3 separate regions of the Homo sapiens genome follow, and all the other regions are linked to region 1. The links come from fine-mapping of genetic effects on gene expression. A gene starts in region 1. Each other region holds a variant in brackets. All regions are shown on one strand. Distances are between the middles of the regions. Region 1 holds the start of ELOVL2 (ELOVL fatty acid elongase 2). Region 2 overlaps SYCP2L (synaptonemal complex protein 2 like). Region 3 overlaps ELOVL2 (ELOVL fatty acid elongase 2).

Region 1 (10,790 bases):
ATATGCATATAAGAAATCACACACCAAAATCTGTCGGGGTTGGGGGGTGATGGAAGGGAGAACATTAGAACAAATACCTACCTAATGCATGCGGGGCTTAAAATCTAGATGACGGGTTGAAGGGGCAGCAAACCACCATGGCACACGTATGCCTATTAACAAACCTGCACATTCTGCACATGTATCCCAGAACTTAAAGTAAAATAAAAAATTATAATAATAATTAAAAAAGAAATCTGTACTTGTATGCATTAAATATATAAAAATTAAAATACATAAAAAACTTAAAAAGCAAAAACCTAGAAAAATAAAGTGCTACCCCCAAGTCACTCTATCATCATACTGTTTCTTCATGACATTTCTCTATCTAGACTTATTGTCTTCTTCCTCTCGTTGAAATATGAGCTTCATAAAACAAGGGAAGTCACCTATATTGTTCCATACCATATTAATATCATCCAAGTTCTACAGAAATTGGCACTTTTTCTTGTAAAGGGCCAAATAGTAGCTATGTGGGGACTTGCAGACCATACAGTTGTGTCACAACTCTGCTGTCCTAACATGAGAGCACCCACAGACAATACGTAAACATAAGGACACAGTGGTATTCTAATACAAACTTTATTTACAAAAGCAGGCAACTGGCTGGATTTGTCCTGCCACTGTAGTTTGCCATCCTCTGCTCTAGAATGTTATACTAGAATATAGTACTCAGCATAATATTTTCAAATGAATTAACATAAACTTTATTTTAAACCTGGATTGATACAAGGTCATGATTGTCTCCTTGTTACTACATCCAATCAAATGACCAATATATACATATATTGCTTTGTCATAAATCCTTAGTCCTAACATATCGAGTGAAAGCTGCACTAAATTTGATGGAGGGAACTCAGTTTTTTCAATGTGCCTTCACTTGGGCTTAATCTTTACTCTTTATCTTACTATTTTTCATTTCTAAACTCATATAGGTGCAGAGCTTTCTTAACACAAAGCAGAGCCCATGGCCAAGGAAAGGACGTGATTTCCAGAGTCTGTTTCTACTACTACCCTAAAAGTACAAATACTTTGAAGAAATGTAGTAAACTGATTTAAAGTCATAATACATTGTAAGTGAGTATTTTTCTCAAGATAAAACACAAAGATGCTAGGTATATCAAAAGAAGGGATGCTTCAGAAGAGAACCACACTAAAAGGAGATTAAACTCCCCCCAAAACAAAGCTTGCCTACTTCATAATTTTGATGAGGGCTGGCAGACTAGCACTGCAGAGGCAGTAGAGACAATGAGAATACTCACCCAGGATTCAGGAGATCCAGGCTTTAGCACTGTCATCTATTAATCGGTCTTCTCTAACTCCTCTGAGACACACTTTCTGAACCTATAAAATCTACGATATGTGACAGAGGGAGAGAAAGAGCATCAGTCAGATCTCTATTTTTAGGTTTAAGATTCTTAGATTATGCTAATCATCACTTTATATAGCACCACATCCATGTAAGTACCTAACACACAATTAGTCTATGTTATTGTACACATGCTCAATATGGGCTTGCCGTACAGCTAAGAAACAGAGTCCAGCTTTTGTGTAATCCATACAAGAGAACAACGAAAGTAAATATTATAAAATCATGTAAGTGATGGCATGTTAAATTTTCCATTAAGTGGGAATTCATGTTATACCCAGTTAAGACCCTCTCCCAGTTATATCTGGTTAAGATATGTTTCCAGTCCTGTGTTTATACAGGTAGAACCACTTCCTTTTTTAAAAAAATTAATTAATTTATTTATTTTTGAGATGGAGTCTTGCCCTGTCACCCAGGCTGGAGTGCAATGGCGCTATCTCGGCTCACTGCAAGCTCCGCCTCCTGGGTTCAAACAATTCTCTTGCCTCAGCCTCCCAAGTAGCTGGGATTACAGGTGCCCGCCACCACGCCCAGCTAATTTTCATATTTTTAGTAGAGACGGGGTTTCACCATGTTGGCCAGGCTGGCCTCAAACTCCTGACCTTGTGATCCACCTGCCTCGGCCTCCCAAAGTGCTGGGATTACAGGCATAAGCCACCGCACCTGGCCACCACTTCCTTTTTCTATTTAATAAAATATTGGTGGGGAAAAAGACCCTCTGGCATTTGCCGTCTCATTTGTTCCTTTGTTGTAGTGATAAGGAAAGCCATAAAATAATATTTTAAGAAACAGATAAGATATAGATGACTTTTTAGATCTCCTTCTGGCCTTATGGGTTGATGTGTATTTTTAGAGAATAAAGGTAAAATAATGATTATCAGGCTAAATGGTAATGTGGAAGTATAGGGATAATTCAAAGTTTAAGAATTCCTTCCCCATGTTTACCTGGTGTGCTTTGCAAGGTTTAGATGACATCAATGATACAATTTTTGCAAGCAACAGCCGCAGGGTTCTTAGAGGTCGGTTGTCACTTAAAATTGTTTTTTCCCTTCATGTTGTTAGAAAAATAGACTAAAGCTTTCCCTGAATGGATAATGGAATTTAGTTTCTCAAAATATCATCCATGGACTGCCTGGCTGCACCAGTATCATTTGTGGTGCTTGTTCAAAATTCATATTCCTTAGAAATGGAGGTTTCACCACTTCAAGACCCATAGAGAGTCCATTATACTTTATGCAGGGTCAGAGATGCCTCTGGAATGAAGTAGATACTCCCGCAATGTGAAACTGATAGCAAATATTAAACCCAAAGCAAAACCAAAAAAAAATTCATATTCTTGGTCTGTACCTGAGGTCATCTTGATGGATCTCAAGTATCCCTGTATAGTATTAAACCCTCTGGTGCTACTTATACACAATAATGTCAAAAAATCACTATCTAGATTAAGAATTCACATTATACTGCATCAGATTAGTGATACAGTGAAATTCAGGTCCAGAGTTTTTATCATTCAATATCCAAAAGACGTGGAAGCTACTTTTATAGCTTTCAAATATAACACGTATCAAATAGAAGAAAGAACACAGGTAAAACAGAAAGAATAAAATCATTCCAAGGAAAAACAATATTTGGGGACTATTCGTGTGAATTTCCTTCAAGTCTCTCAATATCATAATATAGATCATCACAGGTTCTAAAAACTCCTAACAGCAGGGACTGTGTTTTTCTTCATCACTGTAACCCTAGCTGTTACCAAAACGCCTAGCACATAGTAGGCACTGAAATCTTTGCTGAGTGAACAAAGTAAGTGAAGCTGAAATCAAATTGTATCTTTGATTTGGGCCACACTTTTTTATAAAAATATGCCAGCATTAAATAGAATATCACTTTCTGATTCTCAAATGCATCAAATTGATAACAAATCAATAACTAGTACTTTTGTACCAGATATTTTTCTAGAGTTTTACCCATATTAATTTAACCCTAACAGCTACATGTAATGTTAAGTGCTATTTTATCCCAAATTCGTAAATCAGGAAACTGGAGCATAGACAGTTTAGGTAACCAACCCAATACCACACACCCAGTATGTGGCAGAGCTGACTCCTGAGATTTTTATCAGACTAGGTTAACCTGTTTATGGTCATAAAATCATCCGCCTTTTATAAACAAATATATGCCTAATATTTACCACTTCAGCTACAGAAATTCTATATTAGGAAGAAAAACTCTCTATTAGGAAACTATATATTAGGTGATTGTATGACAGTTAAGATTTAGCCCCGGTACCTACAGTTACTCACTCTGCTACTGCACAAAACTCTGCAAGGGCTCCCACACCGCCCCAGGTGTGGGATGCTAAGTGTATGGTGCAGGTACCTCCGTGCACAGCCACACGGGCTGCTCTCAACCCCAATAAACATGTTTACCACATGAGCCTCACATGTGGTAAACATTTTTTTTTTTTTTTTTTTTTTTTGAGACAGGGTCTCATTCTGTCGCCCAGGCTGGAGTGCAGTGGCGTGATCTCGGCTCACTGCAGCCTCCACCTCCAGGGCTCAAGCCATCCTTCACCTCAGCCTCCCGAGTGGCTGGGATCACAGGCGCAGGCCACCACACCCAGCTAATTTTTGTATTTTTTATTTAAGAGGCGGGGTTTCGCCATGTTGCCCAGGCTGGTCCCGAACTCCTGACCTCAAGTGATTCGCCTGCCTCAGCCTCCCAAAGTGCTGGGATTACAGGAGGGAACCACCACGCCCGCCAACTTCCCATGCTTGAGGGAGAAATGGAAGAAAGTTCATGTAATACTCAGGCAAGTCCAATTTTTTCGACGTCTTTCACTTGGGCCACACACACAACTAAAGTAACTAGAAGCGCAGGCTCTAGGAGGCCACCGTTCTGTTCACAGTGAAGAGGGTGCGCTCACCGTTGGTCGTGTCCGCTGGAAGCCCCGCGTCAGGCCGGGAGCGGGACAGAGACTCTTGCTCAGGGCCGTTATCCGAACTGATCCGCTTCCCACCGCACCCCCAGAGAAACCCACCCAACCCCCTAAACCTAAGAAACCCAGACTGCGCAAACCTGCAGGAACAGAGCCATTTCCCCCTAATGTGTGCTTCAAACCCACCGAAGCCCAACTGTAAGCAAGACCAGCGTGCCCGCCCTGCACGATACTGCTTCTCCCCGCAGCAGCGGCTGCCGATCTGGGCAGCGGGTGGGTATTCCTGGGGCTCCGTGGACGTTGAGCCGCCGCGCGAAACCGGCGCCGGCTGGACCTGCAAATCGCCGCCCGGCCGGCAGGGGACGCCGCGGACGCGAGGGCGAGGTCGGTCGCCCAGGAGGGGGCGCGCGAGGCCGCAGGGGCGGGGGGCGCCGCCTCACTTGCCCTGCGCCCCTCCCCCGCGCGCCCTCCTGGCGCGGCGGCCGGCGAGGCCCCTGTGGGAGAGGGGGCGGGGACGAAACGGCCCCGAGGCTCGGAGCGCCGCGCGGCGGCGGCGCGAGCCCGAGGGGGCGGGGAGGCGCGGGCGGGTGTGCGCGCGCCGGGCGTGGGTGTGGGTGGGGGTAACCGGCGCGGGCGCCGAGATAGCGCCGGGCAGAGGGACCCGGCTACCCTGGACAGCGCATCGCCGCCCGCCCGGGTCGCCGCGCCACAGCCGCTGCGGATCATGGTGAGTGGGGCCGCGCGCCGCCACCGACACCGCCGCGCTTTCTTTCTCTCCTGGACCCACGCACCGGGCGGGAAAGGGCCGAGCGGGCGCCGGCGCGGGCGCTGCGGGTTCGCCGCTGGAACCCGCTACCCTCGGAGGGGCCGGGTCCGCGCGGGCCTGGGGAGCGGGAGCTGAGCGTTTGGGCCGGGGGCGCGCGGGTCGGCCCGAGGCCCGCGGGTCTCGGGAACTTTGTCTCGGTCCCCTCTCCCCGGTCCCGCCCCGGCACCTCGAGGCGCCCGCTCGCGCCCAGTCCCCTGTTGCATGCACGGGGCCGGGCGCCCGGGATGCCCGAGGAAGCCGCCCCTCCTTCGCGGCGGCCATTCCCGCGCGCAGCCCACCCTCCGACCCTCCGGACCCCCGAACCTGCTCTCGCCACCGCCCGCCGACGCCTGGAGCGGAGAACGGCGTTTCCCGCGCGCGGCACACACCCTGCCTCGGGAGTTCTGGGGTTCGGGCCCTAACGGTCAAGCTCTTGCCCCTCTCCTCCCTTCACCGCGCCTGCACCCCGGGGGTGTGTCTGTGCACTCGTGGGTGCCTCCTGGGTTTGCAGATTGGCTTGGGAAGCGGCTGGGTTTCTATCAGTGTCTGGGCTCGGAGGGGCTTCTGGTGTGTTCTTTCCGACAACTCCTCTCTCTGCCCGATTTCCCAGGCCAGTCCTCCACTCTGGATTAGTAACGCTTCTTTCTCCTCGGCAGTAAGCTGTGTGTGTGTGTGTGTGTGTTCACCCGTGTCCGATGAACTGCCTGACAGTAAGCTGTGTGTGTGTGTGTGTGTGTGTGTGTGTTCACCCGTGTCCGATGAACTGCCTGACAGTTTTAGTAGCAGAGCCTGGTTCTTTGGTTACAAAGGGAGAACATCTGTTGTGCCATCCTCAAAGGACTGGTCTTTAGGCAAAATGTGAAATCCGCGTTTGTCTTCAGTGGTCCATATTCAGTGTTTGCCTCACCCCCTTCCCGTAGGGTTTTCTCTCCACTTCAGGACTTGTTAAAATAAGCGCACTTCCTTTCTCTTCCCCACTCCATCTGATTTTGCTCTGGCTACCCTTTTAGGCACGTACCATCTGCCTGATTATGTGTGACCACTTAATCTTAAAATTCCAACCTTTCCTACCCCGCCCACCACAGTGTATATTCCCCTTGCCTGCTTCATTTGTCTTCTCTTGAGCATGTATTAGTTAGCGTACTGCATATTTTGTTTCTTTAGCTTGTTTCTTGAACGTCTCCTCTACCAGAATATAGGTTTCAGGAAGACACAGATTTTTGTCATTTCGTTCATTGCTTGCTAGATTTCTAGTACCTACAGCAGTGCCTGGCGCACAGTAGGTACTTGATAACTCTTTTGAATTAACCCAATAAAGCAAGCTGCTTTATGTTAATGCACAGGTGGGGAGTAACTGCAAAGATTATGCAGTTGACATTTGTAATGATGAGAGTCTCAAGTGAAGTTTGGGAGGAGGGAGATACTCCCGACAGGAGGGACCCGATTTTGGCAGCCTTCAATGACGAGTCTAGGCGGCTATCTCTTATGCCTTGTCTGTCGCTTCATGCTCTTTGCACCTTGGCATCAGAGTGGACAAAGCATTTTTAGGACCAACTGGCTCTCCTTTTGGGCTCTGAAGCTTTGTCCTAAAGTATAGGTAGGAATTGTAGTGAGTAAGGGAATAAGTCCAAGGAAATCTCTTTAGCTGAATAGGAAAGTCATGGGAATGTTAACCTAAAAGAGCTAAAATCAAGGGCAAGCTCTTGAAAGCTTTATCCTGCCCAAGTGTGATGCTTCCTGTTTAGATAAGTATTTCTCAGAAACTGTGGGTCTTCAGAGGAATTTTTTTTTAATACCCAAATCCAAATTGTATTACTTTTTTCTTCTTTCTTTTTTTGTGGCAGGGTCTCACTCTGTCACCCAGGCTGGCATGCAGTGATGCAATCTTGGCTCACTGCAACCTCCACCTCCTGGGCTCAAGTGATTCTCGTGCCTCAGCCTCCTGAGTAGCTGGGATTACAGGCGCACGTCACCACACCAGGCCAATCTGTGTATTTTTGGTAGAGACAGAGTTTCACCATGTTGTCCAGTTTGGTCTCTAACTCCTGACCTCAAGTGATCAACACCCACCTCGGCTTCCCAAAGTGCTGGAATTACAAGGCATGAGCCACCATGCCCGGCTGAAATCGTATTACTTTAAAAAAAAAATGGGCAGGGAGTAGGAAAGTTAGGGGGTTGAATTTATAAATAACTTAGTGGGTCAGTTCAGAGAGACATCCTTTTCAATACATGTCCAATATGAACTGTCTTGTAAGATATCTCTGCTAGTTAGTCTTATTATTCCAAAATAAATATTTTTTCTTTCAAATTTCCTTTTGTTTTTCTATAATGTGGATTTATGGCATTGGTTTTTTAAAAATTAGTCTGGAGAAATGTATTAATTGGAAACAAATTGTTTAATAAAATTTACATAAGTTTTTGAAAATTATGTAATTATAGCTATGACTATGTAAGTTCAGCAGTTCTGTGGTTACCATCTTTCCCAGGTAGGTAGTAGAAATTAAAGGTAAAAAGGAAAGAAATATAAGTTTGTCTTTGAAATTAAAACCAATGAACCAACCAAAGATGAATGAAAGATACCTTATTGACTTAAGTTTCTATTTGTAGGATATTTTACTGTTAGGATTCCTAGGATTCCAAAGTATCCAGCCTTTTTCTCTTTCGATTCTTCGAACGTATAGCATTTTCAAGGAGTAAAAAATCAATTTTTAAAGTATCCAGTTGGGTAAGCCTAATTTTTGGTTCTTCAACAAGGGTTCCATTTAATCTAGTTTCCTTCAAAACGTTTTAGTCAGTTTGGGAGGTTCAGGTGCTTTCATGTTCCGAAAGAGAATGTTGAAAATGTGTCAAGTAGATATTATGTATCTAGTTATGTTCAGAAAACAGGGCCCTGCTATTCAGGGTTAGGTGGATGATCGTCTGGGTTGGACAGTTGGATATGTATCATCTAACTTGACAGGTTTGCATTTCTGGGAGTAGACATTGATAAGGGGAAAGAAGTTGCACCAGAAACTTCTTTAATGGCCCAATGTGGTGAAAATACGCCAGCATCAGTAGCTCATAGTAATTCTACAGTTACAGATTCACGCATTTGTAGCTTTTCTTCTTAATTGAATTGGGACATAACTGACTTTGACAATGAACAATTCTAATAAATAGTTAATTTATGACATTTTAAATCTAACCATTTAATAATTGGAGAGCATAACTTGTTCTGAAATTTATGTGACAGTTTAGAACCTGAGATCTGAGGTCATTCGTGGGCTTGAATCCTGACACCAGCATTTAACTGTGTGACCTTGGGCTTCAGTATTTTATCCTGTAAAAGATGATAATATTTCATAAGGTTTTCGGGAGGAACAAATATGATGGTGCCCTTTATGTGTCTAAAACAGTGCTTGGAGTGCTTAGTAAATATTAACTATTATAATGATGTGTGTTCTTTTTTCTCCCATATCTATTTTAGTTGAGACACTTCAGAATGATGTCTCTGTCCCTTTTGTGGTCTTAATATACAACTAATATTGCTGTCCAATAGAAATATAACATAAATCGCATATGTAATTTTCAGTTTTCTACTAATCATATTTAAAAAGTACAGAGACAAGTGAAATTAGTTTTAATAATGTTATTTAACCCAATCCATGCAAATATTTCAACATGTAATCAATGCAGAAAAAGATTTTTCCATTGTTTTTTTTCATAGAAAATCTTCAAAATCTAGTGTGTATTTTATGCTTAGAGTGCATCTCAGTTCAGGCTAGCCGTATTTCAGCGGCTCAGTGGCCACCTGTGGTTAGAGGCTACCGTATTGGACAAAGAGCTCTAGATTGTACACAACTTCCAAGTTTACCTCTTAAAGCTCTTACACCCTTTCCACTAGTGAGAACCTCACTGCCACCTTAAACCCAGCATTACAAAAAGAAAGCTACTCATCTTTCAGACTCTCTTCTCTGTTCTCTTTTGCTGTTAGTAATTCCACCAGCTCTTCAGTCTACTGTGTCTGAAATCTGATTCTTATTCTCTTTTTTATTTTATATTGTTTGTTGTCTAATATTCTCATATTTTTACTTGAAAATATTTCAAAATCTCTTTCCTCCACCCCTTGAGCCCCCTTTCCACCATTTTTGCCTTTTCTACAGATCTCCTCTTTTGTAGACTCTTTGTTTTAACTTTTTTACTTCCTGTCTCTTGGAAAATGTATATCTCTCGCTGAATCACTGGGCTCCACATTCTCTCCATTCCTTCCTCAGCCCTTTTTCATGTTGTCAGAAATGGTTTCTATTTTATAGGTTATTCCTACCCTTAATACCTTTCCTTTGTCAAATATCCAGAGAAGTATAATTACTTTCACAGATAGTCTGATAGTAAAATGATCCACTCAAGAAAAGAAGCACAGATAAAGGAGAAAAATAAGCTAGGGGAAGGGAAGATGAAATCATTCTTTGAGTTTTATTTTCCTTTCAGGAAATATCAGAGGGAATCGATTCTAGTAGTCTGTAGTACAGTAGAGAAATTATATGACTATTTATTTTATGTTTCAAAATAGCTAGATGAGAATTGTAATATTTCTAACATAAGAAAAGATAAATGTTTGAAGTGATAGATATTCCAGTTACCCTAACTTGATCATTACATTGTATACATGTACCAAAACATCACATGTACCCTGGGAATATGTACAACTATGATGCATAAATTAAAAAATAGTAACAGAGAAATATCATGGAACTGATTAATAATCACAATCACCACCACCACCACAATAGCAATGAAACTTGATGTTTATGCAGTGCTTTCTAAGAAACAGGGCACCTTCCTGTGTGCCTGGTGAACAGAGGGAGAAAACGAAAGGCACTGGACCAAGAGTCAAGAAACCTGGGTTCTAGCCCTAGCTTTATTGTTTACTAGCTCCATTCCCTTGCTTAAGTTGCTTTGAGACACTGTTTACTCACTTGCTAAATGGTGTATTATCTCTGTCACAAGATTGTTTTGTTAGAATCAAATGGGGCCTCAGCATCTTTACATTGGCTGCCCTTTGGCTGTATACATCTTTCCCCCAGAGAGCTTTATGTCTGTCTGCTTAATACTTTCATGATTAGACCTACCCTAACCACTCTACTAAAACTGGAACCTGCCTTACCATATGTCACACACCATATTCACACACACAGTTGGATATGTACCACACCTGATCCTCTTACACTGCTTTATTTTTTTTCCACAGCACTTAAAACTAGCAGTTTGCTAATTTACATAGCACTTGGAACCATTTAATCATTAATCTCTTGATAAATTTAAAATTATTTAATTATCACAATTCAGTTTGAGCATGTTTCAGTAATACAGCTGCTTCATCAATACACATTTGCCTGTGTAACCTTTTAGTAAATGATAATATGTATTCCTACAGCATATTTACACTTCATAGTCATATTTGTGGAAAGGGCCAGGTTATGTCATTTTTAAATAATTTAATCCATATTTCATCATAAGTTTTTAATGAAATTAAAATGCATATGTATTTCTATTTTTAGATAAATCTATACTTATAGCATTAAGTTCTTGCTGAAATTAAAAATGATTATCTTAAAATATAAACAAAGCTATGATATATGGATTTGCTGAGTAATTTTATT
Region 2 (10,790 bases), 67 kb after region 1:
TTCCACCACCGTCCCCACTCATTAGCGTCCAGAGTGCCTTTCTCTCTCGGCTTTTTTTCCCCCCTGAGCTCTAGTTTTAAACTTTCTCCTGTTAAAAAAATTGTACTTTTATTTCATGTAAACTGCCCCTCTGAGGATTTGGGCATATTTTTTGGAAGGTGCCTAATGCTTAGGATAGTCTCTAGGGTGATGCACTGCACCTGCTTCCTTCCCTTCAGTGCGGCCGACCCATTTCTGTTGAACAGATGTCTCCTGTGTGATGCCCCTGACTCTTACATTTATCTTTCTAAATCATTTTCTGAAGCTGACTTGCTCTAGGGTGCTTCATCACCACTTCCATCTTGCATCACCTTATAACTGTTCTGTCTTGTTCTCTCCCAGCAATTTATTTTAAAACAAGGGCTAGCTTCAAGCATGACTGTTAATGGCTCCTCTGTGACAAAACACAAGTTGGACCAAGGAGAAAGCCCTTTGGAGAAACTGGACCCTAGTTCAGTTTAGATCTCAAATATAGGCTGAAATCTCTTACCAAAGTGCGTTCCAGATAAAAATGAGACTTAGAAGACAGACTGGTCTAATATGCTCACTGGTCATCACATTCAGCTTATTCTTACGTGCCAGTGAGGCCCTAAGGTCTCAGTGCATAGCATACCTGCCACTCTGGATGTTTTCCTGGGCTTCATATCTGTATGGCAAGGAGGGAGCTGTCCTTCAGCAGACAAAGTCAAGCAGCTTTAAGTACAAGGCAGCTTGAAACCTCTCTGATGAAAGTGAAAAATGTGGGTAGCTTATACTTTCAAACTAATGCCAGTGACTAGAGAGAGGTTTCATTCATGATGTGTATTTCCAATTTGGTCTTCAATTCAAGAGATGCTTCATAAAACACTTATAGCCTTAAACCATTCAAGGGCTAATTAAAAAAATAGTTATGAAATCTTAGCCACAAAAAATAAATCAGGTAAACATTTTAACCTGTCGTTAAGTGTTGTAACTTCAAAAAACCAAAATGCTTATTTTAATGTGATTTTTCTAAAACTATTGAAAAATTAATATTTCTATAATCTATTAAAAAAAATGGAGAATGTTTTCTCTCAAATTTCCTCTGACCCATGGGAATGAAAATACTTAAATACTGTAAAGCATATCTATTAATAATTCCCCCAATTTTTTAAACTAACAAAATGGAATGTTAACTGAATGGAATTAAACATAGCAATTGTCAAGCCATCAAAATTATATATCGAACCACTTAGGCATGTTACGGGGTAAAGTCCTCACCCCTGCATTTGAGAAATATTTTATTATTTTTATTTTAAGGCAAAACAGTGTTTACTGTGATGGGCAGAACAGCCTTTTGTATCTAGGAGTCCATTTGAGTTCTTTCCAATATTTCCATATCGTTCATAAATGTGTCTGGGGGCTTCCTTGTTTGGAAAATATGGATATCGCTTTGTTTTCCTTTGAAAGTAATTATATCTTAAGAACATAGTATCATGAATGGAGTAGACAGGGAGGCTGCAGAAGCCATTTCTCTTTGTAGATAAAAAGCATTATCTATGATTGTTGTATAATAAATTGATTTTTACATTAAATGCATGTTGCGAGTTTTATTTGGTTCAAAGCAGTTAAAATGTATGCCTGCATGGAATTCCAAATGACCTATCACTTGGGAGTTATTTTTACAATAAGGCATTATTTTAGCCATGAATTTTAGACATTTAATTCTTCTCTTGTTTCAGTGAGCAATGGATTATATCATTACCTTTACATTGTATTCATATACCAAGTTAAGCTGTTTCAAAAATGGCCATTCACTAGAAAAACGTAAGATTAGCAGAGGATATAAAGACGATAATTAATAAATTGCTATATAAAGCCACCTAGGGAGGAGCACTAGATTTGTTTGAGGAGAAATTTTTAGGCAGGAACGACATCGTGCAATGCCCTGAAACCCAGGATACAATTCACAGAGCACCTGCATGGGGAGAGAGGTGGTCAGCTCAGCTCGGGAGGAGATGTAGGTGAGTGAGGCCTGACTGTGAGGATGCCTGGGAGAGTTGAGGCGAGGGGCAGGACCACAGGTTGGCGTTTTGTCAGTGTAGAGAGTCGAGTTTTGAATGTGATATTAAGTATAATGAGACACAGATCCTAAAGAAAACTACAAAAGATGTGCTCAAAGTCTGATTAAAAAATTGCTTAAATTCCTGGATAGTGACAGGTGGGACAGGATAGATTTTAAGGAAGGGCAGGAGGAGAAGAGGGAATAGGAGAAGACCTTATTTTAGCTATCTGAATGGGGGCTAGAGTTTGGGGTGGGAGGTTAACGTTTTAGAGGAGCCTTCCCTTTGTTATTTTAAATGGTGGGTGGAACTTAATAAAACTTTGTGTTTAAAAATAAAAGATAAATCCTATGTCTCTATGGCAAGCCTAATAACTGTTGTCACAAACTTAAAGAGCTGCTTATTCAACAAGCGTTCACATCAATAAGCCTCTTAATTCCTTTATGCAAAGAAAAAATTCAGCATGTGTTTTTGTTACAGCAGGCTCTCTTCCAAGAAAAATTACATTCCCATATTTAAGGAAGAGTTTCTCTCCAGAGTATGCAAGGAAATAATCACTCCTAGGAGACTAACTACAGTCACCTCAGGATTCCCTGACCTTCAGTAAAACATGACTTTCAGTCATAGGGGGAAAAAGACTGAAAGCTATTGATTTGTAGGTCATTTTTCCATCTTCAATTGCACTGCAGAACACTGGAATAACACTGAGAGGACAAGGAAATCTGTAATCCGTACCCTCATTGAGCAATTGGTAAATGCGGTCATTGTGGATCTAACGAGCAACCCACCGGGAGCCTGTTCTGAAAGTGTCTGTGACCACATTTGGTAGGCTGAGGAAGGCGAAGCTTGTCACACATCCCTTGATGTTGCATGTGCCATGGTCTATAGCTACCTGGATGACTTGAGATGGGCATTTTCTCTTGTAGTTGCCACAATCACCATCACTCATCCTTTTTCTTTTTCTTTTTTTTGAGACAAGAGTCTCACTTTGTTGCCCAGGCTGGAATGCAATGGTGTGATCTCAGCTCACTGCAACCTCTGCCTCAGCCTCCCAAGTAGCTGGGATTACAGGCATGTGCCACCACTCCCGGCTAATTTTTTTTTTTTTTTTTCAATAAAGACAGGGTTTTGCCATGTTGGCCAGGCTGGTCTCGAACTCCTGACCTCAGGTGATCTGCCCACCTCAGCCTCCCAAAGTGCTAGGATTACAGGTGTGAGCCACGGCACCCGGCCCATTCATCCTTTTTATTCAGCCTATTAACCTGGCTGGCCCCTGAAGGCATTTGAATTTGTGATGCCTATACATTGAACAACAAAAGGAGAAAGTCTATATAGAGTTTCGCCTGGGCCCATATGATATACTTACAGGGAGATGAACACAGACTTACCGGCAGTGGCCCTAGAAACAAATGATAGATGTTGCAGATTTCTCTGAGACTGAAGCACTGTACGTAAGACAGCTCATGTAGAACCAGCTCCTATTCTTTTCAAGCTAGTTTAGACCTATGGAGTTTGATAAACTCTGGAAATAGTTATATTCAGTCTAAAAATTCATCAAATCTTGTCCAGCACTACGTATCGTGTTAGGGATATAGAATGATCTAGATGAAATATCTGTCCTCAGAGTTCATAGTCTAATAAAGTAGATAAACATTTAGCTATAAAATAAGTATTGAGGCCGGGCACAGTGGCGCACGCCTGTAATCCCAGCACTGTGGGAGACCAAGATGGGCAGATCACCTGAGGTCAGGAGTTCGAGACCAGCCTGGCCAACATGGTGAATTCTCGTCTCTACCAAAACTACAAAAATTAGCCAGGCGTGGTGGCCATGCCTGTAATCCCAGTTACTTGGCAGGCTGAGGCAGGAGAATCACTTGAACCTGGGAGGCAGAGGTTGCAGTGAGCCGAGATCACGCCACTGCACTCTAGCCTGGGCAACAGAGTAAGACTCCCTCTCAAAAAAAAAAAAAAAAAAAAAAAAAAAATATATATATATATATATATATATATATTGCCAGAGAAACATTCCTAAAGGAAGTAATGCCTGAGGTTAGTTTTGACGGGTGAAGAGTTCAAATAGACTTCAAAGAAAGTGGTGTCCCAGAAGCCAAGGAAAAAGAGAATATTTAAACAGAGAAAAACGCTGCAAGGCAGCAAGGTGAGCAACTAGTGAAGGCGTGGGGGGGGAAGGCACTGAATTTGGCCCTTGGGAGGCAGTTGGCAGATTACAGGGGGCTTTAGAATGAATGGGAAGTCGAAGAAAAACAATGATGAAGCAAGCCATATGAAAATCCTTCTGAAGAACTAGGGATGTGAAGGAACAGTTACAGTAGTTGCTGAAAGGGAGGAAGAGCTAAGGGGTGTATGTGTTGAATACTTTCAGGAGCATCTGAGTGACTGCAGCTGAGATGGAGGAGGAGGAAGCAGTAAGAAAGAAGCCGGCCCCTTGCTCAGCTCATGGGGCTGGGGCAGGGGATGCTTCAGGTGCCTTTGTCACCACAGGGAAAAATGCCCACAACAACATGCTGGCGAGACTGCAGAGAAAAGGGAATGCGTATACCCTGTTGGTGGGAATGTAAATGAGTTCAGCCCCTGTGGAGAGCAGTTTGGAGATTTCTCAAAGAACGAAAACCTGAATTACCATTCAACCCAGCAATCCCACTACTGGGTATCATCTACCCAAAGGAAAATAAATTGTTCTACCAAAAAGATACCTGCATTTGTATGTTTATCCAGCACTATCCACAATAGCAAAGACACAGAATCAACCCAGGTGCCCATCAACAGTGGATTGGATAAAGAAAATGTGGTATATATACACCATGGAATACTACACAGCCATAAAAAAGAATGAAATCATATCCTTTGCAGTGACATGGAAGCAGCTGGAGGCCATTATCCTAAGCAAATTAATGCAGGGGCAGAAAACCAAATACCGCATGTTCTCACTTATATGTGGGAGCTAAACCTTGAGTGCACATGGACATAAAAGGGGAACAATTGACACTGGGGACTCCAAAAGGCAGGGGTGGGGGAATTGAAAACCTTCCTATTGGGTACTATGCTCACTATCTGGGTGACAGGGTCAACAGAAGCCTAAACCTCAGCATCACACAATATACCCTTTAACAAACCTACACATACACCCCCGAATCTAAAATTTAAAAAGTTCTTAAAACCATAGAGTTCAATAAAAACTTAATACGATACAGGAAAGAAGACCCTTCCCTATAGTCATCTATGGCCTCTAGCAAATCCCCCTGAAAGCAGTCTACTAGAGCCCTGAACCCTGCAAAAAAACTGGCCTCGGTCTCTGTCACAGGAAGAAGGTTGGGGAAGGAGTCAAGAGGGGAGGTTGGTTCACGCAGGCCTGGTTGGCTGAGGTTCCAAGTGCAAAAGCCAGGAGTTCATCTGCTGCCTGAGGGCAAAGCAAATCCTCAGGGGAGCTGCTCGGAGGATGGAAGGTCAGAGCACAGAGGAACACCTAAAATGACAAATGAGGCTGAGGCCACAGATGGCAACAGAGTCTGCTGGGGTAGCTACAGGGCTGTTCCCGGCTACGAGTGAGTCAAAAAGGAAGGGAGCCTGAGTGTAGGGCTGGGAATGGGCCCAAAGGCTGGCTCAGTCCCCAAGGTCAGGGTGAGGAAGCTGACGCTGCTCTTCTTCCCCGAGGGCTGGATGTCAGCATCTCCAGGATGCCTCCTGGTCCAGCCTTCTCTCCGTGTTGCCTGGAAAAGCACATCGATTCCTGCATCCTGCCACCCCGCCCTGCCTTTTCAGGCCAGGGGAGCTCACACACCACCTGGCACAGCACTCCCCAGGCTGTTTTCCTGTTTCTCTGTCTAAGTGTTGGACTGATGTCTGTCTCCCCATTAGACTGCCACTCCTTGCAGGCAGGGGCAAAATCACATTGAATCCTTGGCACCCAGCACAGCACATGGCACACAGGAAGTGCTATAAGGATTCGCTGAAGAAGACAATGTGCAGTAGA[G/A]CCTCTCTAGTATTTCCAAAGAGATGTCCCCAATATCTCAAGCTCATGGTTTTTGCAACTTCCATCAACCCATCCTCAAAATTAGCTCTTTAAATCTTACACCTACCATAGCCTCTCATCTCTGTCCCCTCTTTTTCATTCCCAGTCCTATTTTAGTTGAGGCGTTTATTGTAACAGTAACCTCCCACAGTGTACTGAATGCAGCCTTCATATTGCTACCAGATTAATCTTCCAAAACCACTGTGCTCCTGATGTCTTCAGTGGCTTCTTCTCACCTACAGAATAAAGTCCTTCTAATCAAGCTGGTAAAGACACTTTAGTTTGGGCCTAGCTAAATTTAATTCCCACTAATACTCCATAGTATTATGGCCTCAAACAAATTCTGCATTTTTCTTCTCTGTTCTTATATTCATGAAAGCATCTCTTTCCTAATCCTAGAAAAAAACTCCTTCATCCTTCAAGATCTATTTCAAGTGATACCTCTCCTCCAGGAAGCCATCCTGCCACCCCAACAAAAATGACTTCTACCTCCTCATAATCCCGATGGTGATCACTTTACACTTCATTTTGGCACTTGTCACATAGAGCCTTGATTTACAGTGACCTGGGTGTCTTACTGTCCTCTCTAGACTAAGTTCTTTGCAGCTAAGATAGCGTCGTATCCATCCTAACATCTGCCACATCAGCTTACTCAAGGGTTTGTAGAGAACAGTGCTCAAATATATGCTCACTAGGTGCTGGAAGTCATATAAATTCTTCAGACGTACTTCAATGAAGACAGTCCATGTAATGGCACTGAAATCCATACACTCTCAGGTCATGAGAAACTGTGAGCCCTGAACTGGATATACCTAAACGAAATGAAGTTAGTTAACCTCATTCATGTTTTTTGGACTTAAAAAATAAGTGCTCTTGGCTGGGTGTGGTGGCTCATGCCTGCAATCCAGCACTTTGGGAGGCCAAGGCAGGCGGATCACCTGAGGTCAGGAGTTTGAGACCAGCCTGGCCAAGATGGTGAAGCCCCATCTCTACTAAAAATACAAAAAATTAGCCAGTTGTGGTGGTGTGTGCCTGTAATCCTAGCTACTCGGGAGGCTGAGGCAGGCGAATCACTTGAACCTGGGAGGGGGAGGTTGCAGTGAGCCGAGATCGGGCCATTGCACTTCAGACTAGACAACATGAGCGAGACTCCGTCTCAAAAAAGAAAAATTATATAGAAGATGGCAAAATAGGAATTATAAACGTTTTAGACAAATTAAACTATAAATTAATAACCTACATAATGTAACTAAGTTTTATTATATAGTGAATAAAGTATTCAGTCTGCAGTCTTTCACTTCACTTATCCAGTCATGAACAAAGGTACTTTGTAGATGGCCTTAAATGATGTAGGCTCCATTTTTCCAAAATAAATTCAAATGCTTACCTGTATGTGCAATTTCATCCACTCAAACTTCACTAGAGCATCTAGTAATTAATAACAACATGATGAATATTTCTGCCCTGCTAAAGGTGACACTTTTGTTGAAGTGCTGGAGAAATGAGAATATTTGCAGATCAAATGAGACCTCCTAATAAGTTTATTTTCAAAACATATCACAGGCTGGGCACGGTGGCTCATGTCAGTAATCCCAGCACTTCAGCAGGCCAAGGTGCGTGGATCACGAGGCCCAGAGTTCAAGATCGGCCTGGCCAAGATGGTGAAACCCTGTCTCTACTAAAAATATAAAAATTAGCTAGCCGTGGTGGCACACGCCTATAATCCCAGCTACTTGGGAGGCTGAGGCAGAGAATCGCTTGAACTTGGGAGGCGGACATTGCAGTGAGCTGAGATCGTGCCACTGCACTCCAGCCTGGGTGACACAGTGAGACTCTGTCTCAAAAAAATTAATTAATCAATTAAAACAAATGTAAAGCCACCATTTTTACCTGAGCTACCTTCATCATCTTCAACTCAAATTTCTCCTTCCAAGAGACACATCCAATTGTATTTATACAGATGCTGCTAAAGTGTTTTATTCACACAAAACTTGAAGACATTTCTCAAACAAAAAAAAGTCCATTTTACTTTTATAAAAAAAAAGCAACACCACTCCAAGTTGTTTAACATCCTGAACTTTCTATTAATACTATCTGACCAAATTTTAATACAAAAGGTTAATTTTTATGAACAAATGGATAATAACCCAACTGCAAACTACCAACATATATTCTATCTGAACTCAGCAGTTCCCAGGGATGATGTTTGGAGGGGAGGAAATTGAATGCGTACAGAGCACGAAGTCTGGCTAACAAGGCCTGAGCCAACAATAACCTTGCTCTTTCTCTTCGTCTTCAGGCAGCCCAGGCTGGCAGAAAAGGAAAAGGAGAGCAGTAATTAGTCAAGGCCGAACTGTCCTCCTCTTAGTCCCTAAGAACCCTGTGAGCCAATAGGAGCATCATTCCTTTTTATCCGCTACATCTCACTAACTCAGGTATTCAGTGAAGCATCTTACATGGTTGTCAAAAGCTCATGTCAGTGTCCTCGGCAGAAACTGCCTGGTTATCCTCAGAAATCTCTTCAACACATGCCACTCTGAAGATGTACCTGCCATCTCTCGATAGTTTAACCTAACAGGTGATTTTGTTGGATGTTGGAGATAAGACAGCTCTTTCTCTGTTATAGCACCAGATGAAGTGGGTGGCCTGGCTTTAGGGGCCACACTAGGAAAACTACATGTTGTTAATAGCCAGATTGGCAATCAGACCTATTATTATTATTATTATTTTGAGATGGAGTCTCACTCTGTCGCAAGGCTGGAGTGCAGTGGCACAATCTTGGCTTACTGCAACCTCTGCTTCCTGGTTCAAGTGATTCTCCTGCCTCAGTTTCCTGAGTAGCTGGAATTACAGGCGTGCAACATCATGCCCAGCTAATTTTCGTATTTTTAGTAGAGACGGGGTTTCGCCACATTGGCCAGGCTGGTCTCAAACTCCTCACCTCAGGTGATCCGCCCACCTCGGCTTCCTAAAGTGCTGGGATTACAGGCGTGAGCCACCATGCCCCACCTATCAGCCCAATTAGATGCTCATAAATAAGAGGTTGGTAGGAGCTGATATCAACTGAGGGAACAGATTCTCCCATCCCACCCAAACTCCAGGGCACATGCCTACTGAGAAGAATGGCAGAATCACCTGAGCGATATAAGTTATTTCTCCATTTTTTTCTGTGTGCAGCATGTGTAATTTAATTCAGGCATGACAGACATGACTAGTTACCTATCTAACACCTATTCTCCCCTGTTTCCTTATTAACAGAAGCCCCCACTTTTGGGGAGTGCTGTGACACACTCAGTCAAATTTTCACCTCTCCGGATTCCCTTGCAACTAGGGTGAGCCATGTGACCTAGTTCTGGCCACTATGATGCAGACAAAATCTATCAGCTTGGGCTTCCAGGAAAACTGTTTCCCTGATTTTAAAAAGTGGGGAGGAAGCTGGGCATGGTGGCAGACGCCTATAATCTCAGCATTTTGGGAGGCTGAGACAGGAGGATAAGTTGAGCCCAGGAGTTCAAGACCAGCCTGGGCAACACAGCAAGGCCTCATCTCAAAATAGACTAAATAAATAAAAAGCGAAAGAGGGGAGGATGTTGGCATACATCTTTTACCTTTTAGTTTTACTCAACTCCTTCTTCCTGCCTGGGGTGTAGAAAAGATACCTAGAGGTACAACAGCCATGCTGTGATTATAAAATTCCCAAGTCACAAAAAGAACGGTAAAGCAAAAAGCTCAAAGAACCCAGGTCCCTAATGACTACTTAAAGCTGCTGTACCACCAGCCCTGGACTACGCTGCTGCTCTTCACAGGGAAAAAAGTAAAAGCCCTATTTGGTTTAGCCGCCAGAGTCCAATTTCTGTTACTTGTGACCAAATGTAACATGCACATTTAGTTCACATTTAATCCAATTCTCTATTGGAGCTGGGAATTATTCCAATATTCTTAGCCCAGATTAGTCTTTTTTTAATATCCTCTTTTAGTCTTATTTTGATTTGGAGATTTGTTGTTATTGCTATTTCCTCAAAAGAAAACAGTATTTTTTTCCTCAATAATGTAATTCAAGGTATGTGTACAAAGATATTCACTACAAATTTTTGAATAATAATTAAAAATAACCTGGATGTCCATTATAGGGAAAAATATATAAGTTATAGCATGTTTATAAACTATTTTGCAGTTATTAAAAAATAAGATCTTGTATTGCTAAGAGGCGAGTCCTATTTTTATTGCTGAGTGAACTAATAATATATATTTAGTATATCAATTAATCAATTAATACATATTTATAGGCTGGGCGCAGTGGCTTATGCCTGTAATCCCAGCACTTTGGGAGGCCAAAGTGGGTGGATCACCTGAAGTGAGTAGTTCAAGACCAGCCTGGCCAACATGGCGACACACTCTGTCTACTAAAAATATAAAAAATTAGCCGGGTGTGGTGGGAGGCACCTGTAATCCCAGCCTCTTAGGCAGGAGAATCGCTTGAACCTCAGAGGAGGAGGTGCAATGAGCTAAGATCGTGCCACTGCACTCCAGCCTCGGCAACAAGAGCGAAACTCCTTCTCAAAAAAACAAAAACAAAAACATATATAAGTATACATGTGTAAATATTTGTATATATTCTTGTGTAAGCATCACAATAATCTTTGGAAGAATATACTCCCAACTATCAAGAGGTGGTTGTCTCTGGATCATGGATAAGAGGA
Region 3 (10,790 bases), 35 kb after region 1:
AAAGGATTTTTTTTTTTTTTTTGCTTTGTGGAGGGACGTGGCCAAAGGATGACCAGAAGGGGGCCTTGAAAGTGTGGGGCTCAGGCCAGTGCCTCTCGCTCAGGTCTAAGGGCTATACTGTTCCCTTCTCATCCACCCAATTCTAACCATCTTGAAAAACCCATCCTGCATCCGCACGCCTGTATCTTCTGTCGTGTGGCAGTTCTGTGTGTCCTCCTCCTCTCGGTTGTTTGCTGTTTGACTTTCTATGTCTCACTTTCCCAATTTGTGCATAAACTTTTCAGTCAACTACTCTGTCTCCTTTTCCTTCATATGTATGACAAAGTGTTATGTACACGAATGCTGTTCAAAAATGTGTCAATGAAATGCATGGAGTTTGCTGCTTTTTCTCTGCTCCTAAGTTGGTGTTAATCTTCAGACATTGTCCAGCACACTTGACATTTACATACAGAATCTAGTCTAGTGTGCAGCTAGGACTTTGTGGTCCAAGCTCTGCCCAGTTAGCCTTCCTAATCTCACCCCAGTTCACTAACACTGCAGACCTCTCTGTGCTTATGCTATGTTTTACTATTCCAGTGTAAACCTCAGTTTGTTCCCCTGACATCACCTCATCTCATCATTGCCTTTTTAGACTACTTCCTTACTAACTATATTAAGTAACCCAGAAATAAAGAGAGAATTTTTATCAGGTTTCTGATTTTCCCAGCATTGGCTGTGGTTCTCTCTGTCAGATAGGTCACTAGAGACCCTGGCCATAAAAACATTTCCCAAGGGAGTCATGCCTCAATGTGTTTTATCTATGTTAATCTTTCTTTCTGATGTGTTCTTTCTTTCCTTCTCCATCTGGAAAATGTCTCCAGTCTTTCAAAATTCAGCCACAGCATTATCTCTTCCAAGAAGGCTTTACTTTTTAAGAGATCTAAATTAAAGTATGTTTCTCTATCCTTTATAGCACATCTCTTATAATATTTAAGACACTGGTACTGCAATTTTTTTATTTATTTGTGTATTACTCTCTCTCCACTAAGAACTCTGTGACGATAAGGACCACATCTCATTTGACTTTATTTTTCAGCATATAACAGTGCTAGTATATAAAATCCTCAAATAATTGGTTAATGAATCAATAAATTAATGAATAAAGGAATGGAATGCCTCTTTTTATTCATCTCTTTCCTTTTCTGTTCTCCACATCTTCCCTTGTTTTACTTTTGTTTCTGCCCTTCTTCCACTGTGACTAAATTTTTGCAATATAGAAATAATACGGGCTTTGTGACCTTTAGCGTTTTCTTAGCTCTACAAATGTTGGAAAATGGATTTTGAACCTTAGCAAACAAGCTGAAACAGTTTAAACATTTGTTTGTGGGTGCAGCAATGGAAGAAAGACTTCATTGGCATTTGTTATGATGGTGAGTACATTTGTGAGATTAACATTCTTTGCTCAAGACTGAGAGGCCTCTGGTCAGCCGCCCCCATTCTAAAGCAACACAGATCATATTCTGTCACACTGAGATCTCAGGTAACTGACCTTTCTCACATCGGGGGCCTCCCGAGATGCCCTACATGGAAACAAAGATGAATATACTGTTTAAAAATTTTCAGGCTTGGTTTAGCCCAGATATTTTTTATAAAGATATTATGAAATAATGAAGATAAAGTTCCTTATATGCTGGCCAGCAATAGTAGGTGCCAGTCAATGTTAGTCATCATCTTCATCCTCTTTCCCAAGCTTTCTAAAGTTCCCGAAGACATACGTTTCCTTGAAATTTCTCTCAGGATCAGAGTCACAAATAAGGAATAGGTCCAAGTGATATGTGCCAGGCAGCAAACATGCCGCTCCTCTTTTTCAGATGCCAGCAAATTAATCATCTGTTTTGGCACTTACAACTTTTTTTGAGAGTGAGCTGAATCTAATGCATGCTCCATATCAACTTCCCGAGGCTGTCATGCTCAGCTCACACACAGTCAGGGACCAACCCGCTGGCCCCACCTTCCTGGAAATACTGGTAATGTTCTGACTTCTCCTCTGGTTGCTTGAGGAGGTGCTGTAGACCTCTGTGGCGGAGCTGGGAAATACCTGAACGGGTATTTTGAGCAGCGTGAGAGCAGACCATGCTGGCAGTATTCCGGCTCCCACCTGAATCCAGTGAAAGTGACAATAATTAATCGGGTGTACCCAAGTGGCACTATTTACAGTAATATAAAGTAGATGTTAATGTGTAAGAAATAGTTTGAAAACAAACAAAACATAAATAGAAAAAATAGCTGTAATGCTCCTTACTTGAAAAACAGTCCTACTTAAAGTTTTAGATTCAGTTTTACGAAATACAGTTCAGCCTGAATTTTCATTTTAAAACTGGATTTATGAATATATTTTGTGGAAACAGATGTTCTCTATTGCCTACCCACAACTGTTATTGTAACAAGGGAAGTTGCTTATGGAACAGCTTTGCCTATAAGCATTTTAGAGGTAAATGGAATTTAGGTCAATAACCCTTCAATGTTTTTTTTTCTTTTTTTTTTTTGAGACAGAGTCTCACTCTGTCGCCCAGGCTGGTGTGAGGTGGCGTGATCTCGGCTCACTGCAAGCTCTGCCTCTCGGGTTCACGCCATTCTTCTGCCTCAGCCTCCTGAGTAGCTGGGACTACAGGTGCCTGCCACCATGCCTGGCTAATTTTTTTTGTATTTTTAGTAGAGATGGGGTTTCACCATGTTAGCCAGGATGGTCTCGATCTCCTGACCTCGTGATCCGCCTGCCTCAGCCTCCCAAAGTGCTGCGATTACAGGTGTGAGACACCGCGCCTGGCCAACCCTTCAATGTTTAAATGCACCAAGTCTGTTCTCTAGGACTCCTCTTGCCTAAGGAAATAAGAGGAATTGTTTCCTTCCAAATCTTTATAGGCTTGTGAAAGGTGAGGATGCATTTACTGTCCTCTTTCCTTAAGTCTTTGCAGTCAAAAGTCCTTGAAGCTGGGACCCTTTGAAAGTCTGTCAGTTACATGTTGTTGGTAGTGGCTTGTTTTGACCGTTTCAAAAAAAGAAGAAAAAAACACTTAAATCATTTTTTCTTTCTCTTTTTAGGAACATCTAAAGGCCTTTGATGATGAAATCAATGCTTTTTTGGACAATATGTTTGGACCGCGAGGTCAGTGAATTACTTGAGAACTTAATGTGGAAGGAACACAGGAAGAACACCATTTAGTTATAGAAAGGGATTATGTTATTTCTGGTGTCTTGGAAATAGTAAGGTACTTAATATTTAGAAACTTAACTTCCTCAACTTTGATATCCTTCCAGAATGTCCAGAAGATCCCATTTCTCCTACTGCTTAACCTCTCCTGGGATTAAAGAAGTTCTGGGAGCAGGAAGCAGAGATAGAGTGAAATGCAATGCTTTCCTCCAGTGTCTGTCTGGCTACAAAGCCGGGTTGTAACTTTCCTTCTAAAGGATGCTGCTTTCTTGTTTCCTCTCCACTGCCCATTCATCTTCCACCTTTCTTACATCCTAGTTATATGTGACATTTCTGCCCTTAGATGCCTTGATAAATTCCCTTTAAAGATGTGTGCGCTGGCTGGGTGTGGAGGCTCATGCCTGTAATCCCAGCACTTTGGGAGGCTGAGGTGGGCGGATCATGAGGTCAGGAGTTCAAGACCAGCCTGACCAACATGGTGAAACCCCGTCTCTACTAAAATTACAAAAATTAGCCAGGCGTAGTGGCTTATGCCTGTAATCCTAGCTACTCAGGAGGCTGAGGCAGGAGAATCACTTGAACCCAGGAGGCAGAGTTTGCAGTGAGCCAAGATCGCGCCACTACACTCCATCCTGGGCAACAGAGTGAGACTCTGTCTCAAAAAAAAAAAAAAAAAAGATGTGTGCGCTTTCTCTGCCCGGGGCCCGTAGGTAGGATGAGCTTAGACATCTCTCCATCTTTCCTTCATCACCAGTCGCTTACTGTACTGCAGTGGCCTCCTAACAGGCCTCCCCTCTTCCACTCTTGCCCCTTCCAGTCATTTATTCAGTGTCAGCTGGAATGACATTCTAAAGACCTAAGTCATATTGCATGGCACTGTAGCTTAAAACTCATCAGTGTCATCCCACTGCTCTCAGGTAAAAACCAAACTTCTTATCATGGACTGCGCACCCTTGGGCTGTCTAACCCCAGCAACCTCTCCAACTCAGTCAGTATCCGTCGTCCTCACTGGCTTTCATACAGCTGCTCAAGCCATCTTTTAATTCTGCAAATATGTAAAATTCTTTTACGTGCTATTCCCTGAGCCTGGAATTCCTTCCTAGGATCTCCTACCCCTCCCTCCAGATGAGTCAGTTCCTGTCACACTTGAGGTGTCAGCTTAAACGTTGCCTTTTCAGTTGGGCTTTGCCTCTCTAAGGTACAGTAGTCCCCCCTTAGCAGCAGTTTCGCTTTCTGCAGTTCCAGTTACCCGTGGTCAACCATGGTCCAAAAATAGGGGAGCACAATACAGTAAGATATTTTCAGATAGAGAGATGACCACATTCACATAACTTTTATTATAGTATATTGTTATAATCTCTTACTATGCCTAATTTATAAATTTTCCATAGGTGTATATGTACAGGAAAAAGCATGGTACCTACAGGGTTTGGGAGTATCTGCAGGCTCAGGCATCCAGAGGGGTCTGCTGTGGTCCCTCATCATTCTGTTTCAACCCTTGTTTACTTCCTTCAGATACTTCATTGTTACCAACAGCGATTTCTCCCAGAAGGGCAGGAACCCTGGCTGTTTTACTCACCATTTATCTCCAGGGTTTATTACAGTTCTGGGAACATATTCAGCACTGTATATTTTCCAAATAAATGAATGAATTCTAGACAGAAGGTTTCATTTTACTTGAGCCTTATTGGCTCACAGAACTGTGAAAAGTCCTTAGTTCTCTACAAGTTATTTCCTCAGCCCTATTGGAGGAGTGAGAGAGCAAGGAATGAGGAGGTTTTCCTGTTTCTCAAGATCTTTAAACAATCACTTGAGTATTTAGGCCATTCTCCATTTTCTCCATGGGCTCTATTAACTGTTCTAAATGCATGACTATATAGTTTTAATATAATGATACTGATTCTATACAGCTTTGAAAAAATCCTTTCACATAGGTTTTTTTGCTTTTTCCATTTAACCTCCTGATGACTCTGTGGGGTAGGCAGGGCAGAATATCTTTATCTTCTAACCTACTTTTACTATGTTCTCTCCCTTACAGTTCTAGTGGGTAGAAAGGAGAACAGCTCAGTGTAGAGGGCATGACCCTCTCCCTTAGGCATGCAGGACCCGGGACCCCTCCCTTAGGCATGCAGGACCCAGAGCCCCCTCCCTTAGTTAGGCATGCAGGACCCGGAGCCCCCTCTCTTAGTTAGGCATGCAGGCCCCGGGGGCACTCTCGCTTAGGCATGCAAGATCCAGGAGGAAGTATGATTTGTTGGTGACAGTGGTTTTCTGTTTGACACTTCGACTAGACAGTTAAACAACAACTTGT[C/G]TGCGCCAAGTTCACTGAGCTTTGCTGCCAGTAAGATTGGCGTGATCTGGAATTATGTGGATGTGGGATCAATTGAGGAAAGGATTACAGTTGTTTACTCTGCATTGGTCATTTTATGGAATTTTCCTTTGTAGCAAGGAGATTGTAAAATTGACAGTTGACAGTGGAATCAGATGAGCTCCACACTGACAAGGTGTCTAGCATGTAAGCCATCAGGAATCCTTTTTTCTTCCTAAAAGTCTCACACCCTGATGCTGACTGGCACATCACCGAATAAACCTCTCGGTGTCTCCTAGCCTCTTCTGATTTTGCCCACACCATGTTAGTACCATCAAGGGGTATTGTTCTGAGCAAATACTGACTCAGAGGAAGAGCTAACACTTCTCAAGTCCCAAAGATAAGAAAGTTTATTACAAGCATTTGTTCCTATCTTTTGGCTAAAACAACTATGATTATCCTTAACAACTGTAGCAAACATTTACAGCACTGTGACAAAAGAAAACAAAAACCTCAGGTGCTATATTAGTTTGCAGTATGTGCTTGACTCAATGTGCCAATGGATATGCATTTAATGAATGTTTCCTCTTAACTCAGCACTACGTGGGTATGAGTCAGACAGAGTAGAGATATAAGACCTAGTGGCTGTCTCCTGGAGCATGTACTATAGTTGGGGAGGTAAAGCCAGCACATCTGAAACTACTGGAAATCAATTAAATACTAAACCATGTGTGTTTGTTTCCTAGGCTGCCATAAAAAGTGCCACAAACTGGGTGGCTTAAATAGCAGAAATGTATTCTTTCACAATTCTGGAGGCCAACAGTCTGAAATCAAGGTGTCAGCAGAGCCTTGTTCCCTCTGAGGTTCTAGGGAAGATTCTGTACCATGACTCCCCGTAGTTTCTGGTGGTTGGTGGCAATCTCTGGTGTTCCTTAGCTTGGAGATGCATCACTCCAATCTCTGCCTCCCTCTTCACATGGCCGTCTTCTCTTTTGTCCTTGTATTCAGACCTCTCCTTCTTATAAGGACACTAGTCATTGGCTTAGGGCCCACCCTAATCCAGTATAACCTCATCTTAGCTATATTATATCTGCAAAGACTCTATTTTCAAATAATGTCACATTCACAGATACCAGGAGTTAGGACTTGAAGGCATCTTCGTGGGGGACACAATTCAGTCTAACACCATAACAAGAAGTAGCGTAGCAGTTTAGTGCAAGTCATTTCACTTTTCTAGGCCTCTACAGCTCAATTTTTCTTAAGGGTAAACTGGGATGATATTATCACCTATATAATGGGATTGCTTTGAGAATCAAATAAGTTAATACATGTAAAAGCCTTCAGAATAGTGCCTGGCACAGAATAAGTGCTCAGTAAATGTTATAGTAACAGTATCATAGCCATAATAATATGTGAATTAGAAAATGATAATAATTGTCTTGCTATGCATATGAGGAGCTATAAATATGAAAACACAGTAGGAAATGTCTCCCTTCAGAAGTCAGGACCTTTATCTGGGCATTAAAAGATGAGTAGGGTTCAGATATGGAGATGGACATTAGGAAGTGACACACAGCACAGACTTATGACAGGTGATTGCAAGCCTGCTGTATGAAAGGTGGTATCTGTTAGTCACATGAATGCTGAGAAGAGCTTTCTAACCTTTTTATCTCTATCACCAATGGGAGATATTTATAAAATAAGTGATGGGACAGTCAGAGCTTCAGAAGGCACTTGCCTTGTAGAAATGGTACTCTGTAGGGCGGGTGGTTTAACAAGAGGCTGGGGTATACAGGGTAGGATGCACCAGAAAGGGACTTAGAAAACAAAAAATTCAAGAAAAGGCCATTGCCTGTTGGTGAAACCAGCTCACTACAACTCCATTTGTGGAGGTTAAAAGCAGCATGCAATTTTTATAATTCTGGGCCAAATCATTTTCTTTATTTAAACAAACAAAAAGAGCAGAATAGAGAACACAAATCATTTAGTGTCTACAATGATTTTCAGGTGTTACTAATTATATTGTAGCTCTATCATGTGGGTTTCATTTAGGCTTTTAAATATTCACTCTGCAGTGTAAGGGGCCCTGATGTATTCAGCTGCTTGCCTCCCTGCTGTGTAAACGTCCAGTCCCATGGCCAGATCTGGGTCCTCAGTTCTGAATCACAGCTCCCAGGCTTTGCCTCTGCTGTCTGCAGCCTCCAGGCTTGCTGCACGGTCATCCTATTGCTTTCTCTGAACCAGCTGAACTCTAAACCCCTTCCATTACTGATACTAGGCAAATTCGGAGCTGTGTGGGCTTTAGGAATTAGGATACAGTATCGATATGCCTTCTTTCCTCTGACTGCTCTGATCTTCTCCATGGGAGGACAGCTGCAAGGTATCATGGGGCTGGGAGGCAGATGTGACTGGTTCAAATCCTGACTGTACTGCCGACTATGATGTAGCCTTTTGAAAGTTACTAAAGCTTTCTGAGCTGTTTTTTTTTCCATCCATAAAATTGCATAATAGTACTTACTTCATATTAATTTAGAGTAAATAAATGCAGTAACTGTTCCAAAATAGGCATTCAAGAACTGTCACTTCACACCTTTACTTCTTGTCCCTTTCATTCAGTGTTCAGCCTAAGCCCTGTTTGCTCCATGAAACCTTTACCGATTCAGCCCACAGGCTTCCTCTTCCCCTGAACTCTAAACCCAGGCCAGCCTACCTAATGTTGTATGGAGTTGTTCCCTGTTGTGCTGGTGTGTACAAATGCAATGTATGTGACAATACTGATGACTAAACAGGAGCATCATTCCTCAGGATCCTCACTGTATGTGTTTCTTTTCAGATTCTCGAGTCAGAGGGTGGTTCATGTTGGACTCTTACCTTCCTACCTTTTTTCTTACTGTCATGTATCTGCTCTCAATATGGCTGGGTAACAAGTATATGAAGAACAGACCTGCTCTTTCTCTCAGGGGTATCCTCACCTTGTATAATCTTGGAATCACACTTCTCTCCGCGTACATGCTGGCAGAGGTAAGTGTTTATGTAGCCAAAGCTGAAGTCCAGTAACTAGCAGTTTTTATTAACAGAAACAACCACATCTAGCCTGGCAGAACTATGCAAGGTTACTTTAAGACCTAAAAACTTATTCCAGCATTTGATATTATTCTTTCTGAAAATCCTGGAAGTCCTTGTTTATAACTTGAATCTTTCTATCCCAATTTAGACCTATTTCTTTTTTTTTTTGAGATGGAGTCTCGCTCTATCATCCAGCCTGGAGGGCAATGGCACAATCTCAGCTCACTGCAGCCTCCGCCTCCCAGGTTCAAGCGATTCTCGTGCCTCAGCCTCCTGAATAGCTGGGATTACAGGTACTCCCCACCATGCCCGGCTACTTTTTGTAATTTTAGTACAGACAGGGTTTCACTGTGTTGCCCAGGCTGGTCTTGAACTCCTGATCTCAGGTGATCCTCCTGTCTTGGCCTCCCAAAGTGCTGGGAGTACAGGTGTGAGCCACTGCGCCTGGCCTAGACCTATTTCTTTAGTCTCTAGTCTAATTATAATTTAGATTCACAATGTAGATCAAATGGGCCTTTCAAGATCATGTTACAATTTTCTCCTTTTACAGATTAGGATACTGAGGCTTAGAAAAGTTTCATAATTTGCCTGAGAGTAGACAGTGATTAACCGAGTATTTTAAAAATTAACTTAAACATCATATGCAGTTAGTTTGACTGAAATGCCAATATATATATTCCCTTAAAGAATACTCTGTATGTCTTTGGAACACTGACGTTTTAGCTCAGCTCTAGTGGCCCTTTGTTACATCCTGTGCTCCAAATTCCTCTGTGAAGCACCAAACCAAGGTCATTTTACAGGAGAAGGAACAAGGATGATTGCCCCATCTGTACAACCAAGGTTATTTTAATGTAAAGGAAGGGGAAATCTAAAAGTGTTAAATAACTTGCTGTAGAAAAAAAAAAAAAAAGAGGGACAAAGAGAACAAAAACAAAAATTTTTAGTGATTTTATAGCTTGTATAAAATCATTCATACAAGCTATAAGCGGTGGATAATGGCACAAATATAGCTGCCTTTCTGGTGATCTTGAGTTCTAAAAGAAAACAAATCCTTGCCTTAAAATGAAAGTTCTCTTGAGAGTTTATTCTATGCATTATTCTAATATGTACCATTCTTAATAACTATTAATATTACCATAAATGACTGGAATGAAGCTCTCATAATGGAATTTTAGGCATCAGTCAGTATAGGAGATGGAATTTTGGGGTCAAAAAAGCCATGCTGACAACTTTTTTTTTTTTTTGAGGCAGAGTCTTGCTGTGTCACCCAGGCTGGAGTGCAATGGCGCAATCTCAGCTCACTGCAACCTCCACCTCCTGGGTTCAAGCAATTGTCTTGCCTCAGCCTCACGAGTGGCTGGGATTACAGGCACCCACCACCAATCCTGGCTAATTTTTTTTTTTTTTAGTAGAGATGGGGATTCACCATGTTGGTTAGGCTGGTCTCGAACTCCTGACCTCAGGTGATCCACCCGCCTCGGCCTCCCAGAGTGCTGGGATTACAGGCGTGAGCCGCCACCCCCAGCTGACAACTCTTAAAATTATATCACATAGGTGCTCACGAATCTACTTGACACTGAAAGGACCATTTTTATTTTAGGTTCTCTACTAGCTGAATTTTAGCTCCCTAGATGAGTTAGCAAGATAGTAATTTATGGGATTCGTTTCTCTATATAGCAGAAGGCAAGATACTCTTGGATTGTTTTCCATAAGTGACAGCTGCACACTATTTACAATAGCAAAGACTTGGAACCAACCCAAACGCCCATCAATGATAGACTGGATAAAGAAAATGTGGCACATATACACCATGGAATACTATGCAGCCATAAAAAAGAATGAGATTCATGTCCTTTGCAGGGACATAGATGAAACTGGAAGCCATCATTCTCAGCAAACTAACACAGGAACAGAAAACCAAACACCACATGTTCTCACTTATAAGTGGGAGTTGAACAATGAGAACACATGGACACAGGGAGGGGAACATCACACGCCCGGGCCTGTCGGGGGGTGGGGAGCAAGGGTAGGGAGAGCACTGGGACAAATACCTAATGCATGTGGGGCTTAAAACCTAGATGAGGGGTTGATAGGTGCAGCAAACCACCATGGCACTTGTATACCTATGTAACAAACCTGCACATTCTGCACATGTATCCCAGAATTTAAAGTAAAATAAAAAAGAAGTGACAGCAGCAGCAGAAGGGCCAGCCTGCATGTCCAACC

The links. PIP is the estimated chance that this variant, and not a neighbour inherited with it, causes the effect.
Region 2: its variant is the best candidate, but not a certain one, in a credible set for the expression of ELOVL2 in lung (TOPMed, PIP 0.70).
Region 3: its variant is the best candidate, but not a certain one, in a credible set for the expression of ELOVL2 in anterior cingulate cortex (GTEx, PIP 0.58).

What each region holds. Positions count from the first base shown.
Region 1 is chr6:11,038,511-11,049,300 of GRCh38, reverse strand. ELOVL2 (ELOVL fatty acid elongase 2) reads left to right here and starts at 4,996. Exons shown (of 8, transcript NM_017770.4): 1 at 4,996-5,073. The coding sequence starts at 5,071. ELOVL2-AS1 (ELOVL2 antisense RNA 1) reads right to left here and starts at 5,543. Exons shown (of 5, transcript NR_038964.1): 1 at 5,476-5,543; 2 at 1,302-1,392; 3 at 82-192. RefSeq lists enhancers at 3,465-3,965, 3,966-4,466 and a silencer at 4,901-5,100.
Region 2 is chr6:10,971,561-10,982,350 of GRCh38, reverse strand. It overlaps SYCP2L (synaptonemal complex protein 2 like), which reads right to left. Exons shown (of 30, transcript NM_001040274.3): 30 at 8,042-8,399. It overlaps ELOVL2 (ELOVL fatty acid elongase 2), which reads left to right. Exons shown (of 8, transcript NM_017770.4): 8 at 1-1,592. Among named protein-coding and RNA genes, the nearest start is that of ELOVL2-AS1, 67 kb to the left of the region's middle. RefSeq lists an enhancer at 5,668-6,168. The variant G/A (reference allele first, on the strand shown) is at 6,052.
Region 3 is chr6:11,003,101-11,013,890 of GRCh38, reverse strand. ELOVL2 (ELOVL fatty acid elongase 2) reads left to right here. Exons shown (of 8, transcript NM_017770.4): 2 at 3,082-3,145; 3 at 8,332-8,519. Among named protein-coding and RNA genes, the nearest start is that of ELOVL2-AS1, 35 kb to the left of the region's middle. The variant C/G (reference allele first, on the strand shown) is at 5,502.